2 separate regions of the Homo sapiens genome follow, and region 1 is linked to region 2. Evidence: fine-mapped expression QTL. A gene starts in region 2. The other region holds a variant in brackets. All regions are shown on one strand. Distances are from middle to middle. Region 1 overlaps BEGAIN (brain enriched guanylate kinase associated). Region 2 holds the start of BEGAIN (brain enriched guanylate kinase associated).

Region 1 (5,360 bases), 41 kb before region 2:
GTCCTGCCTCAGGAGCTGGGAGTGGGGACGGAGGACAGATGACTTGTGCCTGGCATAGAGCCCAGCCCACCTCACTGGACAGATTGGGAAACTGAGGCTCAGGAAAGGGCCGGTGTCCAGGCACCCAGGCAGAGCCAGGCCCAGCCCCCAGGCCTGCCACCCCCCGTCTCTGATAGCACCACAAAGGTGGGCAGGTTGTTGCTTTCAAAACCAAAATGAGCTGGTCACCAAAGTAGAAAGAAAGGAAACCTCTTCATCCTAGTGAGGGAGTGGCACCAGAAACCCACACCCTGCCCCTCTTCGACATGTCCCAGCAGTGTGTTCACAGAGAAAATGGCGACCCCACTGAGGTCACCTGCAGGTGGTGTGAGGGTCCCCACAGAGGGGTCCCCATGAGAGGCGGAGCTGGGGCTCAAACCTGCCTCTGGCTCACCCAGGGCCTGAATTCGGGCCTCCCTATCCTCCTGGGCCCAGGTCCTTGGACTGGCAGGCTGAGCTGGGGGGCCCGTTCCCAGTGTATGTCCTCCGTCCACAGCCCCTCTTACACACCCCCAGGCTGGAGTGCTCGCACCCGCCACTCAGGCAGCACAGGGCAGCCCTGGACCCAAGTACTTCCTTAGCCTGAGAGCACACACCCTGCTCCACATGTTCCATGGAGAAAGGGGTGGGACCAGCAAGACCTGTGTCCCAGCTCCTGAGTGGCCCAGGGGTGTCAGCTGGGTGGCTCCCCCCGGGAAGGAGGTGTGGGGTGGGGGAGTGGGCGCTGCGTGGCGGCCTCACCATGCGGTACAGCTTGTCCTCCAGCTCCTGGTTGATCCTCTGCAGTGCCATGTAGTTGCTCTGAATCCTGGTGCAGGAGGCAAGGGGGTCACTGCCATGCAAGGCCTGTCCCTCCCACGACCCTTATGGCCGCACAGCCTGCTGAGCAGGGTGGGGCTGAATTTGGACCTCCTGAGCTCACCCCACCAGCTTCACCCTGGTGGAATGTGTGCCCCTCTGCACACAGCAGAGAACATCCCATTAAAGCAAACTTTTGTAGAAGCCTTTCCTAGGCCAGGGCCCAGGACTGTATTTCCCCCTCCACCCCGGGACCCCCTGAAGATGGGAAGGGAAGGCTTGTTATTCACAAGAGACTCTGTCCCATCCACACGCGGAGCCAGTTTACTCACATTTGACCCACAATTCTTACAAACCTGTTATGGGGTTGACAGTTCAAATGCAAATGAGCAGGGAAGAAACTTAACACTAACTATGTGATGGGCCCCAGGGTGAGGCTGGAGACATCACAGTGAACAAGACTCGGTTCTGCCGGGTAGGAGGAGTGGAGCTGAGTGTCAGGTGGGAATCAGGTGCTTGGAGATTCCATTGCTGGTGGGAGGGGGCTTGGGGATGGTGTCCAGCCTCAGACAACCTATGTGTCGTGTTATGGCCCCTGTCTTGCCAATAGGGAAACTGAGGTGAAACTTTAATTACTTAAAGCAGTAACTGGCAGGGCCCAGATTTTAACTGAGGTCTGACTGCACTGCCCAAGCTTGGTTTCCACATGAATGGAGGGTGACATTCAAAACACTCAGGAGCTGGGGCTGTTCGGAGAGGGACAAACCCTCTCCCTATGGCAAGTCCTCCCTAGGGGCAACACCAGCCGATTCTCTACAAATACCTAAAACAAATCAAGCCAACAGCAAAGGTTGCATGCTTCTTGCATTTTCTGTTTAAGAAGATGAGAAAGTGCATATTACATTTCAGAAAAACATCCATTTTAAATGTGCACAAGAAAACTGCTTTTAGAAAAGTTTGGTGTTTGAGGGAGTCCAGCACAACTGGATCGACACTTCATTAGCCCGTACGCGCTCAAGGGAAGGGTCCCTAAACTGGTTCATCTCCGGGCTAGACACAGCTTTTCCCATCAGGACCCAGGGAACCATGGCTGGGCCCCGGGTGGACCAGTCTGGGTCTGGAGATCTGCTGGGTTCAAATCCTGGCTCAGCTGCTCCATAGTGTGACTTTGGAGGAAGAGCTTCCCCTACCAGAACCTCTGGACTCCCCATCTGAGTGGAGTCAACAGCCAGGGTGAGAGGGGAGCACCGCGTGCGGCTTTCCGGGCCTCGGGCCCTGCCCCACCCCGGCCCTCGCCCCGCCCCGGCCCTCGCCCCGCCCCGGCCCTCGCCCCGCCCCGGCCCTCGCCCCGCCCCGGCCCTCGCCCCGCCCCGGCCCTCGCCCCGCCCCGGCCCTCGCCCCGCCCCGGCCCTCGCCCCGCCCCGGCCCTCGCCCCGCCCCTCACCTGCGCAGCTTCTCCGTGACCTTCTCCAGTTCCTCCTGCGCGCGCCGCAGCTCGATCTCCAGGTAGTGGCGCGTGGAGTCGAACTCGGTCTCGAGCTTCTCGAGCTTGTGTGTGGTGTAGGACAGCCGCTTGCGCAGCTCGCCCTTCTGCTCCTGCAGCGCGCTGCAACGACATGGCGGCGGCGGGCCGGGCCGCGGCGCTGAGCGGGGGAAACTAAGGCCCGCAGGCCAGCCGGGGCGTGCCGCACTAACACGCGAGTACCGGCGCGCGCGCGCGCGCGCACACACACACACACACACACACACACACACACTCACACACACCCAGCCTCCCGGGCGTCACTGAAGACCA[T/C]GGCGCCCCAGAGTCAGGGACTCTGACCCTGAGCCAGTCTGGCCTGGGCGGTTCCTCAGACTCCACCAGTGTCCCTCACACAGGTAAATCCCAGGTGGTGGCTGGAGGAGTCTTTGACCCCAGAACCTGGCCAGTGTGTTGGGGGCGGTTTAAAGGACCCAGGTACAAAGAGCACCCATCAGCACCCAGGCTATCACAGAGCTGGCCCTGGGTGGCACAGGTGACTGGGGCCCTCACTCCTGCTCCTCCACAGTGCTAGGTTGGGATGGCTGAGGCCCAGAGTCAGCAGTGCCATGCCCAAGACCAGACCTGCTTTCCCCAAAATGGCTGTGTGGCCCTGGGACCCTGGGTCACTTCTCTGGGCCAGAGAGATGTTTGGTGGCAATGTCCCATGCCCGGGCAGTGTCTGCCACCATGGCCAATGAGGCTGCATGCAGCACGGGAAACCTGGCAAGGTCCTGGCCTGCTCAAGTTCCCCTTCCTCCAGGAAGCCTTCCAGAAACCCAGACAATTCTTGAGGCTCTATTTTCTTCCCCCAGAATGGGGTCTCCTGGAGGGTAGGACCCCAGGATGCAGAGCCCCACATGCTCAGGAAACAGAGACCCACTATGACCCACTCTTCCGAGCCACCTGCCAACAATTCACCTGAACTAAAGCTGTGCAAAGGCAGGAGGGTAGTGTGGGGGCCTCCAACAGGGATGGCTCGGAGCTCCCCAAGGCAGGGGCTGCACTTCCGGTTGTCTGGGTCAGAGTGGGGTCAGCAGCCAGCAGTTCTTTCCTTGCAATGGGTGCACAGCCCAGGGGCTATCTGGGACCAACATCTTTTGGATTGTGTTGCTGTGAGATGGGGACGGGACAGGCAGAAGTCCCGGGTGTCATGAAGGAAACTTGAGGTGTGGGAGAGGGCCTGGAACCCTGACTCTGCCCAGATGTGCTGTGGGACCTTGGGCAAAAGCCCGCGTTCTTGTGATATTCCCGACCCAAACCCAAGCGAGGGGAGTAGAGGGCAGGCAGGAGGCTCCCAGTCCCCCTGGGGCCACCACTGTCCCCCAGCCCCGAGCAGAGGCATCTTCTGTCTGGGCCCCGTGAGTAAACCGCATGTGGCACTGCGGGCACACACCCAGCAAGCCTCCAGGAAGCACTCTTGGATTCCTGCCCAGGGCTATATTTTTAAAAACAAATAAAAATAAAGCGTCGCTTACGTTTTTGAGAACCTCAGAGAAGGGCAGGGCGGGTCTTCCCAAGAGTCAGTCACCACAAGAGGAAGTAGAGTAACAAGCAAAGAGGGAAGCCCTGAGGCAAAGTGCCACAGCTGCCCACGTGGGTCTGCCTCCGGGAGCGCTCTCTGGGACAGTGCTCAGGCCTCCTTCCACCTCCTCCAGGCAGCCTTCCGTGGCTGCCCCACTTCTAGCACTCTATAGCTACAGGTCCCAGGCTGCTTCCCACACAGACCTGTCCTCCCCAGGGAGGTGGTGAACTTCCTGGGGACTCCTATGCCATCCTGGGCTCCTAGGGCAGGCACAATGGGCTGCACAGCAGCCCCTGAAGTCGACTGTTCCCTGCAGGGGCTCCTGGTGTACCCACAGCCCTCGGGAAGAGGTGAGGGCGTCATCCATCCACCCACGTGGCCACCTCAGCCCCGAGTCCTCACCCCTTCTCCAGCCACACCCCAGGCCTCACTGAGCAGCCTTAGGTCCTTGCTATTCTGAGACCTGCACCCCTAGCTCACTGTGCCCCCTCACCCAGCCCTGCCCCTTCTGGGCACCCTGAGGTCCCTACCCTCACCTCTCAGAGCAAGCAACCTGTCTGAGACCTCACAGCCAGGAGTAAGACAAACCCTGCCCCTGCCCCGGGAGCCTGCGGTCCAGAGGGGAGGCAGACAATGAGCTAGGCAGGGATTCTCCACGGGGCAGGTGTGGGAGGGGAGGACGAAGGGGCTATGGGGTGGGCTCGGGGCAGACATCTCACAAGTCAGGCAGCTTCACAGAGCCTCAGTTTACCCCTGGCCTTTGGATGGCCTTCCAGATACAGCAGTCAACTCCCTGTTCCACCAGCCCTTAAATACTGCTCCCCCTCCCCAAGTCCTTCACACCCAACCACCTGCTACACCCAACCAATCTTTGGGCTAGCAGTGCCCCCAGCCCCTGACTCTCACACCCCTCTCTGCCTCAGTGTCCGCTTGCTGCAGGCATCGGGCCATGGACACGCACCCCGTCCCCAGGCATAGCTGATGCCCCGCACTTGGCCGCCCCAGGGTTCCTGCCACGTCTTTCCCCACCTCTGCTGGTCCGGCGATCACACCACAGGCCCCTCCCGACCTCGCCCGGGCTGTTCCCTGGGGCCCCGGTTTGCACCTGCACCCCTGCCCTGCATGCTCAGACCAAATCCCCTCCAAGCCAGCTGCACAGGGACCCCTCCCAGGTTTCCATCTGACTCCAGCGGGGTGTCTGTCAGGCTCCATACCCTCACCACGTCCAGCCACCCACCTATGGCCCTCAGGCATCTCCACACCCAACCCGTCCAATGCAGCCACATCCACCACACCTTCACTGCCCTCCACGTTCCCCACCCGGGGGGTGGGCATGGTGACCCCTCTTTACCCCTCACAGCCCTGTCACTAAGTCCTGGGGGTTCAGCTTCTCACACCTCTGAACGTGTCCCCTCTGCCCAGTCCAGGCTGTGTACCTAGGGTCTGCGGTCACCCGGGTAGTACCTCCTTCCCTGTCCA
Region 2 (5,360 bases):
TGAACACTCTACACTCTCCCCATCACCTTCAGGCCTTGGGCCAGGCTCCTGTAACACACCTTGACCCCTTCATCTGTTCAGCAACTACTCAGCCCTTGGACCCCACCTCCTGGGACCCTGGGTAATGATTTGTGGACTGTGTCCAATAGCCATGGACTCATGGGCTTCAGTCAATCCCTCCCATCCATCCATCCATCCATCCATCCATCCATCCATCCCTCCCTCCCTCCCTCCCTCCCATCCATCCATCCATCCATCCCATCCATCCATCCCTCCCATCCCTCCCATCCATCCCTCCTTCCCTCCCTCCCATCCATCCCTCCCTCCCTCCCTCCCATCCATCCATCCCTCCCTCCCTCCCTCCCATCCATCCATCCCTCCCATCCATCCCTCCCTCCCTCCCATCCATCCATCCATCCATCCATCCATCCATCCATCCATCCATTCATCCATCCATCCACTCTTCAGCATCAGGAGTGCCTGCAGGAGTAGGGAAGCTCCTTCAAAGTGTTGCCGTGGAGATGATGCGTGGAAATGCTGATCCAGGGCCCAGTACATAGCAGGCGTTCCATAAATGGCAGCTATGTGGGCCAGACCCTGCGCCCAAGTCTTGGGAGAGTGGATGGAAGATCTTCCAGATTGCTTAGGGCTCATTTCCTCTCTCCAGGCCTGGGCTCTGACAGGTGTCCCCCTACTCCACCCCAGCGCATGGAAAACTCATCCTCCAGGCTGAGGTTCTAGGCAGCCCTCCCCTCCCCACTCAGCTCCCAGGTGCGAACAGCTCCAGGTTTTGACGACAAACGGAACGCGGAGCCTTGGAATCTATAAATATGAGACAAAAGCTGGGGAGGGCCCTTGGCGGCAGCGCAGCCGCCCATCGCCCAGAGCCCGTGTGCTGAGCCCGGGCAGAGCCGCATCTGCCACAGTGCTTGCTTTTCCAAGCTGCCCTGATTATAGTGAGAGTCGGGAAAATTAAGGGTTTGCAGGATGCTGCTGGGGCCCTCTCTGCCGTCTCCCCGCCCTGCGTGTCACAGATGCCAGGCAGAGCCACCCCCAACGGCCAGTTGCCCCTGCTGGCAAGACCAAGGCCAGCCTGGCAGGGCTGCACACCGCAGTTTGTTAGGGGCTTCTGCCCACAGTCCTCGTGGGAGCCTGGCCCTGGGAGTAGTGGGGGTCTCTGCTGCTCTTGGCAGGCAGAGGAACTAGGGTCCAGAGAAGGAAAAGAACCTGTCCATGGCCTCCAGAGAGCCAGAGCACTGGGGCCTCCGACGGAGCCTGGCTGTGGAGACCCCGCCCCACCCATACCCCCAGGGCCTGGACCCCCAGTCTGCACTGGCGGCCGACCTTGGCCATGCGGACTTTGCACGTGCAGTGCTCCCTATCCATCCGGCCCCGCTCCCGGGTGCCCACTCTGCTCCCATTCTGCCGGCTCAGGAGACTCCAGCGCGTCGCCCACGCTGTTCCTGCCCTGAGGAAACCACATTGGGGATGGGGTGGGGCACAGACGAGGAAGGAAACACCTCTAAACCAAGCAGGAAGCGGAAACGCTGGGGCAGAAATTCCCATCCAACGTGCTGGGGCTCAGGGAGGGTGAGCGCGCCGGCTGAGCCGCTCTGGGCGAGGCCCTGGCCTCCCTGAGCCTCAGTTTCCTCGCCTGTAAAGGGGCAGGAGGATAGTACCTGCCGCGAGGTACTGAATGGGATGGTGGTGTCCGAGGTTCGTGCGCGCCCACGCGCTGCAAACGCTCAATGAGGCGGCCCCGGGTCCAGCCTCCTTCCGGCTCCCGGGCCTTTCTCCGGCCTCCCAAGCAGGGGCTGGCCCTGCCCCCAGACGCAGGCGGGTCCAGGCCTGCCCGCACCCTCGCCACCCGCCCGGGACAGCGGCGGGTCCCCAGTCCTCCGGCCGCGCCCTTGGTCACCCGTCCCTCCTTTCCTTCCGCCGCAGGGGCGCGCGTGTCAGGGCGCAAGGACCCCGCGATAGGACCCGGGCGCTCCCGGCGGCGCGCGGAGGCTGGGCATCCCCGCCCCACCCGAGAGTGCCCAGTTCCCAGGAGACCCGGCCCGGCTCCTCCCGGGCCAGTGAAGCCTCCACGGCGGGGGCGCAGCGCGGAGGGGAGCGGGGCGGGGGGCCGGCCACCTCCCGCGCTGAGCAGGGACCGCCCCAGGCGTGGGTGGCGCCCGCCCCGCCTCCGCGCCCGCGCCCGCGCCCTGCCCTCCCGGCTCGCAGGTACTCACCGCCCGGCGCAGCCGGCCCGGCCGGCGACCGCCAGTCCACATGGCCCCAGGGCAGCCGCGCCGCTCACCGCCGCCGCCGCTACCGCCGCCCCCTCCCCTCCGAGGCCGAGCGCGCCGGGAGCCGGCGCGGCCGGGGCTCCCCCACCCCGCCCGGCTTCCCGCAGGGAGCGCCCGCCCCCCGCCCCCAGCCCGGCTCCCCGCCAGCCCCGGCCCCGCGCAGCCGCGGCTGAGCCCGCGCGTCCTCCCGGCAGCGCCCGGCCGGGGCGCAAGTGGTGGGCGCAGGGCCGGGCAGGGGCGCGGGGGTGCGGCGTGCGCGGGGGCCAGGCGAGGAATGGCAGAGGGGCAGGGAATGAATGAACCCGCGCCAGCTTGAATGGCTGAGCGCGTGAATGAATGAGTGCGGTAGAGCATGCGGGGCTGGGGGGGCGGGGGGAATGAATAAATGAGAGAACTAATGCACGGGCGCGAAGGTGAGTGACAGAGTGAATGGGCCCTTGAAACCCAGAGGCTGTCAGTAATGACCTGCCCAACCTTTTCATCGGTCCATCCATTCAATCCCTCAACATTTATTAGACACCTAGTGTGTACCAACCAGCCCTGCTGTAGGCCCCAGGGGGTACAGTAGCGAGTGAAACCAAGCTCCTGCCCTCGCAGAGTCACATTTTACAGATGAGGAAACCCTGGCTCCCAAGGGTGCCTCCTGGCCAAGCTGCCCCTTACCCTGCCCTTGCTCTGCCCGAGCCCCCAGTCGGTGGCTTCCAGGGCTTGCCTTCTCCCCAAGGAGCTCTCAGGAAGGGAAGGTGGCTTCAGGAGGACCAGTGTTGCCCCCTGCCTATCCCTCCAGTCTGAAGCATCCCACCGACCTGCCCGGTAGAGCCCAGGCTGGCCAGTCCTACCCTGGTAAAGGTGCAGCGTGAACCCTCCTCTCTCCTCCCAGAGCGGGCAAGGGGCAGCCCTGAGGGTGCCAGCTACATGAGGGTCTTCCATCCCAGCCAGCCCAGCAGCAGCCAGCGTGGGAACCCGGGGAGGAGCACTGGCAGCCAGGGAGGGTCCTGCGTGGTGGAAACAGAGCTGGCAAAGCCCGTGTGCTTCGCTCATATCCTCCCTCGGGACCTATGGGCTCATGGTTCACACATGCTTATATCATTTCCAAGTACATGGCAGATTAGAAGATGCTGCGAATGAGTACCTTGTATATTTTTGTTTTTTAATTGTGGAAAACATGGAAAACATAAAATTTACCATTTTAACCACTTTTAAAGTGTACAGTTTGGGGACACTGAGTTCCCACTGTTGAGCTGCCATCACCACCATCCTTATATGCTGTATGTTGTATGCTTTGCAGTTTCTACGCTCTCTCATTTAATCTGGGGAGTAGGTTGCTACATTCAGGCAGTGTCAGTGCTGAGAAAAGGCACTGATAGCAAGGCAAGAGGGGAAACCCAGAAAAAAAGGAGACAAGCAAAAGAACCAGCAGCTGACTGGAGCCACTTCGTGTCAAGCAAAGTCCTGTCTCTGCTCCCTCTCAGGTCCCAGGGACATGATTGGGTAACCAATGGACAGAGGGAGGCGCCTCCAAGTGCACCCCACCACAGTCAAGACAAAATGAGAGGCGGCAGCTCAGGGCGGGGCTCTCCCAGTTTGGGCGAAGCGTGGACAGACTTCGCCCAAACCGTCGCTGGTGTGCACCACGGGACCAGCCTCTTTGCTCAAGGGGGCCTTAGTCTCCCCAGCAGGAGTAGGGACAGGCTCCCTGACCTCCACTCTGGCCTCTCAGGTTCAGACACCATTCAGGCAGCACACAGCAGTGGAGGCATCCTGTGAGAGGTAGTGAGGCCCAGCCTGCCAGCTCCAGTGTCCCTTCCCTCCCCAGTCCCTAAGGGGACAAACACCAATGGGGGATGTGGAACCTGGGGTACAGGCAGGGCTCTGCCCACATTGCCTCCTCCTGGGCTGCGGCCCTTCCCCAGAGGCTGGTCCTGCTCAGATGGTGCCAGAATGTTCACCGCCCGCCCTGGCACTGCTGCTGCCAACGCCACAGATGGCTGGGGAGGCGGGGGAGGGGCGGGTGGGGTGGGGGCGGCTCCTGCTTCAGCTCCAGCAGCTTGCAGGCTTCAGCTCAGGCCTGCCTGGGAAGGCCCCAGGAGAGCCCCTCCCCCATGCTGCACGCACCTCCCGTCCCCACCCTCCCTGCCCTCTCTTCTATCCTTCCCACTCCAGCCCCCTTAAGCTAGGAAGGCGGAGAGAAAGCAGGCATTGGTTGTGGGTCTGGGAGCATCCCTGCAATGCCCCTGTAGGGGAAGTGGTACTAGCCCCTTTTTGCAGATGGGGAAACTACAGTCAGTGCAGCAGAGCCTGGGGCATCAGGCAGGCTTCCTGGAGGAGGCAAGGTTTCAGCCGGGTTGGGAAGAAGGGATGAAAGTGGCAGGACTTCGAGGTGATGCCCTGGGGCCATGGAGGACCCTCTCCTCAGGCCCCTGCCCTCATTCAGACCTCTACGGACCACTCTGTTTGACATCACCATCCCCATGGCTCAATCTCGTTGCCCTATTTTGTTTTTTGCGTGTCTCTTACTGCGTTCCAGAGCTATCTGATCTGTCTGTTGATGTGGACATCAATCTCCCCGCTGGGATGCGTGGTCCTCTACTGTGGTCAGGGAGCAGGGCAGGAAGTGGCACCACACTGGGGCTCATGGTTAAATGTGCCAAAGAATGCATGGATGGATGGAGGTGGGGGAGATAGGAATAGCCTGGTGTGATGCCAGGCTTCTGGCCCTGGTGGCTGAGTATAAAAGAAAGGACAGCACGTCAGGGAAGTCATTGACAGTGAGGCACCCGCAGACAGCCACATACAGGGGCTCCAGCATCAGCTAGCCATGCTGACCAGTTCCCTGCCTCATCTTCCAATCCCCACCCACAAGAACAGATTGAGCAAGGGTTCTGACTATGAGCCCTAGAGAATGGGAAGGTGAGAGGTATCTTCCCACTCTCCCACAAACAACAGGTGCTCCAACTGAAACTCTGGAGTCCCCTGCAGAATCGGGCTACAGCTGCCCTCCACAGGTGGTGAGAAGGCCCTGAATTGGCCCAAGTGTGTATCTAACAATGACCCCAACTGCAATATTAA

Evidence for each region.
Region 1: its variant is fine-mapped to the expression of BEGAIN in blood mononuclear cells (TOPMed, PIP 0.91).

Annotation. Positions count from the first base shown.
Region 1 is chr14:100,544,220-100,549,579 of GRCh38, forward strand. BEGAIN (brain enriched guanylate kinase associated) reads right to left here. Exons shown (of 7, transcript NM_001385089.1): 3 at 2,282-2,443; 4 at 781-847. Among named protein-coding and RNA genes, the nearest start is that of BEGAIN, 41 kb to the right of the region's middle. RefSeq lists an enhancer at 2,710-2,839. The variant T/C (reference allele first, on the strand shown) is at 2,633.
Region 2 is chr14:100,585,015-100,590,374 of GRCh38, forward strand. BEGAIN (brain enriched guanylate kinase associated) reads right to left here and starts at 2,403. Exons shown (of 7, transcript NM_001385089.1): 1 at 2,235-2,403. The coding sequence starts at 2,276.